Homo sapiens: one gene and its partners. The protein of the gene in region 3 purifies or fractionates together with the protein of the main gene of each other region. This does not show direct contact. Each region holds a gene or a part of one and is shown on either strand. Other genes may lie near its edges.

Region 1 (3,636 bases), on a different chromosome or scaffold from region 3:
GGGAAGGAAGCAAGAGAGGACTGAGATCAGCTGGGAGCTCCTGCAGAGACTAGAGATATTAGTGGTCCAGGCAAGAGATTGTCAGTATTGCTCCCAGCCACGGAAAATTTGGCTGTTGTAGGTCTTTCATTGTGAAATGTAAACTTATTCTTGGGAATTAAGTATTCAAACAGTGAATGTGGTAGGCAGGGGCTGAAATGGTTCGTAACCTCTACCTGACTGCCAAGTGCCAGCCTCCCTTTCATGTCATGAAAGATACAAGAGAGAACAGGCTCCCAGGCCGTTCTACCCCCCTTTCAATCACACAACCAGTGTGTGACTGATTGTGTGATTGGAAAGGGGGTAGAGATAGAAGTAACTGGACTTGGGAAATATTTAAGCAGCAACAAAATGGAAAGTTATTTTGCAATTACAAGAATAAACTTTCAGTAAAACTGCTATTAAAGTCTAGATTTATCTAAGGGTAAATTTTGTGATATAGGGCTTGTAGGCCATATGAGAAAATTTTCTACCAGTAAAATAAAGTTTGAATTTGTTTTTATTTTGTTGTAACAAAGGCAATAAAGAGGGGAAGTCTCTCAAATATTTAAAAACTTTTATTTTTACTTTCAGAGAATTTGAAGGTATACAGATGAAATCTGACAAGACGTGAATTTATAATTCTAAAAATAATTTCACAGCAGAGAGAAAGCATATACCTAGATATGTACATATTTATTACAATATAAAGACATAAATGTATATTTCTGAAATATTCTAAAAATATAATGTAGGAAGAAATATTTATCAAATACACAGAATTATATACAGTATGCATTTAGGAAAAGCAGTAGTAAAAATATGCACAAATAAACCATCTGTAAACACAATTTTTAAGTCTTATAAGTATTGCATGCATTTCTGTGCATTTTACATTTATGAAATCATATTTTTCCTAGGAGTTCAAATCACAAAACAAATGTTATATAACAGATCTCTAACTTTTGCATGCTTTACACTTGTCCCATTTAATAGACAGAAAAATTATGGCATGGGAAATCATTTTATAATATTAAAGTCACACTGAATGTTTTTAAGCTGTGACTAAACTTTGAAACATTGCCCTGCACCACAGATCCTAAATCAAGTACTGCAAATATTAAAAAAATGACTGAGGCAAATTACCATTAGAACCCACACACACATACACGGACACACACACACAGACACACACACACATGCATGTCTGTGCTTCATATGCACATACACAATTTAAAAATTATTGCTTCATCTTTACCCTAATGCCATAAAGGAATCACATTTAAAAAATAAACAATTTTAAGGTCCTCTAACAAAATAATGCCCCAGTGAATCACTAGTCTTATAAGTTGTTTGACTTCGTTAAAGTCCTTTTAAAAATAGAGGTGTTCTCTAGTTTCCCAATAATGTTTTTATTTCAATGCAGGAAGAACGCAATTTCATGGGAGGCCTGATAACTTTAACCATCATTTAGCTTGGCTTACATTATTAAGCAGGGACATTTTCCTAAGTAGTACATTAAGCAGAGCTACAGTAAATGGATTGTCAGTATTACTCCCAGCCCCAGAAAATTTAGCTGTTGTAGGTCATTCATTGTGAAATGTAAACTTATTCTTGGGAATTAAAGATTCAAACAGTGAATGTGGTAGGCAGGGCCTGAAACGGTTTGTAACCTCTACCTGACTGACAAGTGCCAGCCTCCCTTTCATGTCATGGAAGATGCAAGACAGAACAGGCTCCCAGGCCATTCTAAGCACCTGAAGATGGTGCTGACACAGGTGAAGTGTAAACCAGCAGTGAACCCTGTAGAATGCCTTGGATCCCAGCACTCAGTCCGCTTCCCTGAGTTGGATATGATGTTAGCAAATACCACCATCTAGAAAGACAGTACAGCTTCTGGAACAATTTTGCAGAAGAAAAAGTATCAACACCTGGGCCTAAATATTCTTTATAAGCTGTTGTATGGTGTGGTGTTTGAAGTTTGCTTTCCGGTAACGTAGAAGCCATAAGCACCATTCTTGCAGAAAAGTTGAAATGGCTGTTTTGGTCTTGGTAAAAAAAAAAAAAAAAAAAAAAAAAAAAAAAAAAAAAAAAAAAAGGTATACCCTAATTGTATATCAAAGAAGTGTATTTAAACAAGACAAATTATTAGCCAAAGAAAAAATGCTAAAACTTAAAAGGTGTGGCTTACTGTGATAAACATGCATGCTCTTTGCTGAAGGCTGGGGTGTCACAATGCAGCTAGAATACTTTCCTTACCCTACTTGATTCAGTTCTGTTGGTTGGGATGCTCAGAATTTGACAAATTTCATAATAGCATCAGACACTTGGTGGAGGAATAATAATGTATTCATTTGGGCCTTGTTCAGAAATTTCATCTGTAATTGCATGTTTCTCTAAATAATCTACCAATAAGCAAATGCTCCTTAACTTGCCATTGGCAAACAGCATTTTTTTCTAGGAAAATCCTAGAAGGTGCTGCTAAAAGAACACAATGATAGAATCCGGGTTTAAACACCGACATGTCAGCCTATAAAGCCATATGTTACAAATGTCTTATTTCCACCACCAGGGGTGGTGGCTCACACTTGCAATCCCAGCACTTTGGGAGGCCGAGGCGGGTGGATCACGAGGTCAGGAGTTCAAGACCAGTCTGGCCAACATAATGAAACCCCATCTCTACTAAAAATACAAAAAATTAGCTGGGTGTGGTGGTGTGCACCTGCCTGTAATCCCAGCTACTCGGGAGGCTGAGGCAGAAGAATCGCATGAACCCAGGAGGCGGAGGTTGCAGTGAGCTGAGATTGCACCATTGCACTCCAGCCCAGGTGACAGTGTGAGACACTGTCTCAAAAAAAAAAAAAAAAAAAAAAATTAGGGCCTTCTTAGGCTAACTTTTGATCACTTCAATAGTTTTGAATTCATTGTAATGTCTATTAGGAGAACATAACTAGACTTACTAACTCTTAATTTCATTAAGGAAATTATTACTCAGGACGAGGCCAACATATGCTATTTGGCTTATGTTATTTAAAGGAAATAACTCAGTAGTATTGAAATAAATAGCACCTGGTTGGTATATGGACATGGCAAAAGTTGTGGAGGGAACATGAGAACTCCTCTATTGTCAGAAAAAGTATTGAATGGCATACTGCAGAAAAAATATTCTATTGTGTTCAATACAGGCTGATAAATATATACATTTATATTACATGTGGTTGCATAACACAAACCTAGACCCTAGGGCTAAATACAGTCCACCGCTTGTTTTTTATAAAATTTATCAGAACACAGCCTTTGTAGGCAGAATAACAGATCTCCTAAAATGTGAATGCCCTAATCCCTGGAACACGTGAATATACTACCTTATATGAAAAAAAGGGCTTTCCAGATGAAATTAAATTTATGAACTTGGAGATGGGAGACATGATCCTGGATAATATCTTGTCAGACAGAAGCAATGTAAGAAGAAAGAGAGATTCAAAGTGTGAGAGGGACTCAACCAACCATTGTTACTGGCTTTCAGTTGGGGAAGGTTTCATGAGCCAAGGAATATGGGAAATCTCTCAAAGTTGAGGATCGCCTTCAGCTGACAGCAGCAAAAAAATAAAGACTTCA
Region 2 (3,655 bases), on a different chromosome or scaffold from region 3:
TCATATGCTGGTATTTTGTAATATGTCCCCCAAAGAAAGGGAACTGATGTTTAAAGGAGTTTGAGAGAGCTTGCCACTCTGCATGGCCTGCTGTAGGACAAAACCCTATGCATCACTGGACTGGAGCTTGCTTCCCTAGGAGATGGAGGTGTCCCTTTATATATTATTTGGAACAAAAGCAGAATGCCAAGGCATGGTATATATTCACAAATGTTGGAAATTTATAATAAGAATGATAGAGATAAAGTAGGGGGAAGAGGCTAGGCATGGTGGCTCATGCCTATAATCCTAGCACTTTGGAAGGCCAAGGTGGGCGGATTGCCCTAGCTCAGGAGTTCAAGACCATCCCGGGCAACACAGTGAAAACCCGTTTCTACTAAAATACAAAAAAATTAGCCGGGTATTGCAGCGTGCGTCTGTAGTCCCAGCTACTTGGGAGGCTGAGGCAGGAGAATTGCTTGAACTCAGGAGGCAGAGGTTGCAGTGAGCCAAATTCACACCACTGCACTCCAGCCTGGGTGACAGAGTGAGACTCTGACTCCAAAAGTAAATAAATAAATAAATAAAGTAGGAGAAAGAGAGCTAACATTTATTAATATATGAAAATTGCCATAAATCTCATTTAATGATGAATTATATGCATATATATATATATACATCCATGTGTCAATTTACAGAGTGCTTTCATATCCATTATTTGATTTAATCCTCATAAGAGTCCTGTGAGCATGCTCAGGGCAGGTGTGATCAGTCCTTTTGTACAGAGAAGGAGTGTGAGGTTCAGGACAGTTAAGTGGTTAAGTGACAATATCAAGACTAAAGTCCAAATCTTCTTAATCCCAGTCTTATGTTTTTGATTTGCATATTCCTATATTACTTCAGAAGGCTGAAGGCACAGGGAATCAGATTTATGCCTAATATAAAGAAACTCTAAAAATCACAGCTGTTGAACAGTGAAATAGGCTGTCTTATAGTCTTATAGAGTGATTGTAGAGGATATCCATGCCTTAGGTGGAAGATTAAATGTCATGGCTTCTAAAGTCATTCTCAACTCTGTGATCCAATGATTCTAAACTTTCTATGTCCTATTTCTCTGAGATGAGGCTTTGGCAATCAGGCCTATACTTAGACAGCTCCTGTTTATTACATACATGGTGCTTAGAAGATAGACACTCTTAGAGAAATGCTTGGGAATTGGAGATTTTCCCAACATCACAGACAAACCCATTGCTTCAGTACAACAAACAGAAGTCAGGTATAACCAATGTGTCCAGGTAGCTCTCAGATCGCAAAATGATGGGAAACAAAGCCAAATATTTCTCAAAATTGCAAAGTACACAGTACCTGGGTGAGTTTTCCCTGAAACTTAAAATCTTGGAGCACACATTACTATCAGAAATTATAGGAGGAGGCACAGGTCTGCATTTGAACACTCATCAGTAACTTTGATATATAGTGAATCCGCCTTTTAGGAATACCTTTTCTATATAGTTGTTTAAACACCAAAGGCATTTTAAGAGGTAGAATATATGGACTGATACTAATCCACACTTGTCTTTTCTGATGGGAGACCAGAATTCTCTTTAGAGCCAACAGAACCAGCCACTGTTCCAATTCCCTTGGAACATTTTTGTTGTATATTTACAGCTCCCTATGCTTAAGAGAATGGTGCATCTGTCTGATGGAGACGCCTGGCTGCATTCTTTCCCAGATATTAATATAGGTGGCACTTTAGTAGTATAACCAATGACATGAAGAACCTGATTTGGAGGGGGAACAGATGGCAGCATCTTTCTTGGGCTAATTTTAGGATCCTGAAATAGTCCCTTTCTCACACAAACCATCAGTGGAACCAAATTAAGACAGCTATGTCATATGGAAAAGAGAAAGAGAATAAATATGGTTTAGTGTGAGGCAAAGACAACGAGCCAGAGGCTTCAGTGCTTTCCCCGTATCTGACTTCTTTCAGAGCATATGAAGGTCACTTCAACTTCCTTTTATCAAAATAGATGCTGAGCATCAATGTGAGGGTATCTAAAAAGTAATGAATGGGCAAATATCATTTTCAGTCACATGTATTGAACAATGAAGGTTGCATCATATAATAGCTAAATTCATATTCATAAGAATTCATAGAACCTAGGTTCTAACACATCTTTCATAGCAGATAAGGAAGCTGAGGCTAAGTGACCTTTCTGCATGGTAAATCAGAAGCAGATTGAATTTCAAAGCCTCAGATTCCTGATTCATTGCTTTGCCTGCTAAAAATACCTTTTCTCCAAATGAAACCTATAATATCAGGTTGTGATGATGAGATGTGGAGGAAGAGTCCGTCAACAAGAAATGATATTTTAGGTATAACATGATCATCTAAGAATTTAGAAAAAACGGGAAAAGTACTTTGAAAAAGTACCTACCTGTTTTCCATCCAGAGTGTAGAGTTTTTTGACAACCCCGGTCTCCAGTTTGATGGCTTCTGTGATATCAGTGAGGACTTGCTCAAAAGAGTGGGCTGTCTTCTTGTTCAGAAGCACACGCACAGCCTTCCGAGGCTTCACCCCACTGCGGATGATGGTAACCAGCTTGGGGCGCACAAAGTCCTTGTTCTCCCTGGCCTGTGCACTGTTGCTGCTAGCCAAGGACTGGGGGGCTTTCATATTGGCAGATGTTTTTACGTTGACAGACCAGTTGGGATTGACATTCTTGGTGTACTCCACCTTTTTAAAGAAGTTGTCTGAGGAACAGACATAGCTTTCCCCTAAGGCAAGAAATAAGTGATTAGGTGATTAGTTTAATAGCAGATATATGGATTATTCTAACCAAACTAATACACACTGACACTGGAGTAGAACTTTTCAATAAATGGTGATACTAACCAACCTTAGGTGCAATTCCTAATTGGGCTAAAAACTTGGCTCATCCAAATTCAAGAGTAATTCTCAAAACATCCTTCAATATAATGACACACCTAGTTGAAGAACTCTGTAAAGCTAAGGGTTCTAAGGACAAAGAGCATATCTAAATTTAATATAACAAGTGGAGTTCCAAGCTTGATATGGTTTTTTCTGGAATTTAAACATTTATGTTAGTTTCTAGGATGTTTAGCTTTCAGGGGCATTACTGGAGAATTTTTAACATTTCTATTTCTTAAAATCCCTGTCCTATTTTTGGACTCAAAGTCCCATCCCTTTGTGATATTATGAACCAAGGAAAACTTTCAAAGTTAAAACATTTTTATGCCAAGTTAAAATGAACCAAGTAACCTTGTATATCAGGCATACATACATACTTGATAAGAAACCAGGTCATCCTTTGCACAGAGTATATGGCCAAGTATGGAATATTGAAATGTGAAATGTGTGTGCATATGTTGAATGTTTATATGTGTGTATAAGTGTGTCCTCTACTCCTTATGCTACACTAGGTAGAGAAACTGTCTAAATAACAACCAGTACATATAAACACCTTAGCTTTTGCTTGAAAAATACTCTCATGTTTCTACCACTCACCCTTCATCTTTCCATCCTCTCAAAGGATGCACATAAGATCTGTGTATTCAGGGTCATCTTCACCAGTGCTCACCCTTGGCTGCCACAAGTAATGAGGTAAAGAAGTGAGAATACATTATACAGCCTGATTTATGGATTGGAAGGAT
Region 3 (3,655 bases):
GTTTCATCATATTGGTCAGGCTGGTCTCGAACTCCTGACCTCAGGTGATCTGCCCACCTCGGCCTTCCAAAGTGTTGGGATTACAGGCGTGAGCCATTGCGCCCGACCTATGCATGGCATATCTGAAGCTTCAATAAATGTTAACTGTTATTATTATCAGAAAGAATACTTTCCTAGGTCTGTGCTGTCCAGTAAGGTAGCCACTAGCCACATGTGGCTACTTAAATTCTTTTTTTTTTTGAGACAGAGTTTTGCTCTTGTTGTCCCGCTTGGCTCACGGCAACCTCCGCCTCCTGGGTCCAAGTGATTCTCCTGCCTCAGCCTCCTGAATAGCTGGGATTACAGGCGCGTGCCACCACGCCCAGCTAATTTGTTGCATTTTTAGTAGAAATAGGGTTTCAACATGTTGGCAAGGCTGGTCTCGAACTCCTGACCTCAGGTGATCCGCCGCCTCAGCTTCCCAAAATGCTGGGATTACAGGCGTGAGCCACCACGCCCGGCCTAAATTCAAATTAATTAAAATAAAATATTCAGTTTCTTAAGTCATATTAGCTACATGTATGTCACATGTGTGTCACATGTGGATAGTGGCTACCATATGGGCCAGTGCAGATAGAACATTGTCATCATCATAGAAGGTTCTATTGAACAGAGCTATTCTAGGCATTTTCCTAGAATACTGTGAAAAGGCAATTCCTAGAGTAGCTCTTAACTTGTCTAATTTCCTCTTTTATTTATTTATTTTTGAGACACGGTCTCACTCTGTCACCCAGGCTGGAGTGCAGTGGTGCCGACATGGCTCGCTGCAACCTTGCCCTCCCTGGGCTCAGGTGATCCTTCCACTCCAGCCTCCCGAGTAGCTGGGTCTACAGGCGTTTGTCACCATGCCCAGCTAATTTTTGTATTTTTTGCAAAGACGGGGTCTTAATGTATTACCCAGGTGGACCTTGAATTCCTGGGCTCAGGCGATCTGCTTGTCTTGGCCTCCCAAGGTGTGAGCCACTGCGCCTGGTCTATTTTTATTTTTATTTTTTAGAGACGTGGTCTTGCTGTGTTGCCCAGGCTGGTCTCAAACTTCTAGGCTCAAGCTATTTATTTATTTATTTTATTTTATTTTTTGAGATGGAGTTTCACCCTTGTTGCCTAGGCTGGAGTGCAGTGGCGCGATCTTGGCTCACCGCAACCTCCGCTTCCTGGGTTCAAGTGATTCTCCTGCCTCAGCCTCCAGAGTAGCCGGGATTACAGGCATGCGCTACCATGCCCGGCTAATTTTGTATTTTCAGTAGAGACGGGGTTTCTCCATGTTGGTCAGGCTGGTCTTGAACTCCCAACATCAGGTGACCTGCCCGCCTTGGCCTCCCAAACTGCTGGGATTACAGGCATGAGCCACCGTGCCCAGCAAGCTATTCATTTTTTTGAGATAGTGTCTTACTCTGTCGCCCAGGTTGGAGTGCAGTGGCACGATCACAGCTTACTGCAGCCTTGACCTCCCAGGCTCATTCAGCATCCTGCCATTCTATAAGATCTTACTGTAGCTGTGGTTATAACTCCCCCCAGGCTGAAAGGGTGAAAATTGAGTTAAGATTATTCAGCTGGGCATGGTGGCTCATGCCTGTAATCCTAGCACTTTGGGAGGCCAAGGCGAGTGGATCACTTGAGGTCAGGAGTTTGAGACCAGTCTGACCAACATGGTGAAACTCCGTCTCTACTAAAAATACAAAATTAGCCAGGTATGGTGGTACACACCTGTAATCCCAGCTACTCGGGAGGCTGAGGCAGGAGAATCGCTTGAACCTGGGAGGCAGAGGTTGCAGTGAGCCGAGATTGTGCCATTGAACTCCAGCCTGGACAACAGAGCAAAACTACATCTCAAAAAAAAAAAAAAAAAAAAAAGATTATTCTATGTAATCCTCCAATTCACTTTCCAGATGTTTTCTTCTTCCTCTTTGCAGGTGGAGATCACACAATCACATATCCCATATTGCAAGCGATGGCAAAAAAGTAAGTCTCAAATGGCTTGGGCCCAGCAAGATTTCAAAAGCCAGAAGCTAGGGAATGAGTTATTTGCTGTTTGGTGGCATTAGGTGACTGCTGCTGGCTCAGGTTATGAGCTGCTTCTGGGGATCAAAATTAAGGTTGAGCTCCAGGTGTCTCTGTCAGTCAGCAGCTAGAAGCCAAGACAATTTATTATTAACAGTTCTGGCCACCCTCCCTTGCCCTAGATCTCTCCTGGTATGTGTGCTCAGCATTTTCAACTTGCTTCTGTTTTTGGAAGATGAGCCTCTAGTGAAATACACAACCTCAGTTAACTTCAGTTTCTGTTTTGCTTCAATGGCCAAAAACAAACACTGACAGGCACAATGGTGGACCTTGCTGAGAGGCCCTTGTTTCCTCCTGAAAGGGCACCTTTCTCAATCAAAAGACTGATTTGCCAGTAGTGGAAGTCTACCCAGGATTGGCCGACTTTGGCTAATTTAGTTTGAGAAAGAGACAGAAGGACCCGGGTGGAGGGTGGCAGCTCCAGAATGTGTCTGTGGAAGCACATGTGGGTGGCATTCTGGTTGGAGGTGGGAGGGTGCAGGTCTTTGCTCAAAGCTGCATTTATTCCTCACGGATTTGGATCAGATGTTTATTTTGGGTGGCTGGCAGGGGTTGATGGAGGTTATGGAGAGAGCTGGATTAAAGCTTCCTCTTCCTCGGTTGGAGAAAGGGTGTGTCTTGGTTTAGTTAAGCCTTCAGCCAAGCTCCCCTGTGCCACCACCCTTGATTCTCATCCTGTCTCTAAGTGAAGCAAATTCTGGGTGATAGGTGTGGGTGGCAGCCAAAACATGTCTATTTCCTGCCTGACTTCTGTGAGTTTATTGTTCCTCTGAGATGCAAAGTGATCTCAAGAAGACAGGAACCAGTTGCAAGGCAGAAAACGGATGCCAGGTCTCCCCTTTTTGGCTGTGAATTGTCACCAAGTTTTGGTGGCCCGAAGGGTGGCTGTGCTAGGGCCCCACAGGGAGGGTTGGCCTCTGAGCTGCCCTGTTGTCATCAGGCATGGCCCAGTGGGGCTGCTGCACGTGGATGCGCACACGGACACGACCGACAAGGCCCTAGGAGAGAAGCTCTACCACGGGGCGCCCTTCCGCCGGTGTGTGGATGAGGGTCTCCTGGACTGTAAGCGTGTGGTGCAGATTGGCATCCGGGGCTCTTCCACGACCTTGGATCCCTACAGATACAACCGGAGCCAGGTGACAGACCGAATGCCCCCCACCCTTGCCCCTCAAAATGTCTTCCTCTCCGTTGCCTCACCAGTGGCAGCCAGGGATTGAGCGGGGGCTTTACTAATCAAGTCTGAAGCAGGGATACAAGGCTGAGTTTGCATCATCAGGGGCATAAGGAGCATAGGAGTGAGGAAGTTGGTTTATGGGCCATGGGAAGTCTATCGCTGGGCGGGGGAGACAAGCAGAAATCGACCAACCCCTCGGACGGTGCTGGCTTAGAAGAGGGGAGGAGGCCGGGCACAGTGGCTCACACCTGTAATCCCAGCACTTTGGGAGGCTAAGGTGGGTGGATCACCTGAGGTCAGGAGTTCGAGACCAGCCTGGCCAACATGGTGAAACCCCGTCTCTCCTAAAAATACAAAAATTAGCCAGGTGTGGCGGTGCGC

Evidence for each region.
Region 1: the proteins of AGMAT (region 3) and CYP24A1 purify together in Homo sapiens (affinity purification with mass spectrometry; one large-scale study listed by BioGRID and IntAct). This does not show direct contact.
Region 2: the proteins of AGMAT (region 3) and DCX purify together in Homo sapiens (affinity purification with mass spectrometry; one large-scale study listed by BioGRID and IntAct). This does not show direct contact.

The regions. Positions count from the first base shown.
Region 1 is NC_000020.11:54,152,868-54,156,503, forward strand, and holds the end of CYP24A1 (1,25-dihydroxyvitamin D(3) 24-hydroxylase, mitochondrial isoform 1 precursor), read right to left. Parts: exon of another isoform or gene 1,895-3,636; 3' UTR 579-1,894; downstream 1-578.
Region 2 is NC_000023.11:111,398,573-111,402,227, forward strand, and holds part of DCX (neuronal migration protein doublecortin), read right to left. Parts: intron 2,759-3,655; coding exon 2,418-2,758; intron 1-2,417. UniProt on the Homo sapiens protein: Microtubule-associated protein required for initial steps of neuronal dispersion and cortex lamination during cerebral cortex development. May act by competing with the putative neuronal protein kinase DCLK1 in binding to a target protein.
Region 3 is NC_000001.11:15,578,440-15,582,094, reverse strand, and holds part of AGMAT (guanidino acid hydrolase, mitochondrial precursor), read left to right. Parts: intron 1-1,952; coding exon 1,953-2,001; intron 2,002-3,040; coding exon 3,041-3,236; intron 3,237-3,655. UniProt on the Homo sapiens protein: Hydrolyzes linear guanidino acids to form urea and the corresponding amines. Displays specificity for substrates having a negatively charged head group and short chains including taurocyamine, guanidino propanoic and butanoic acids.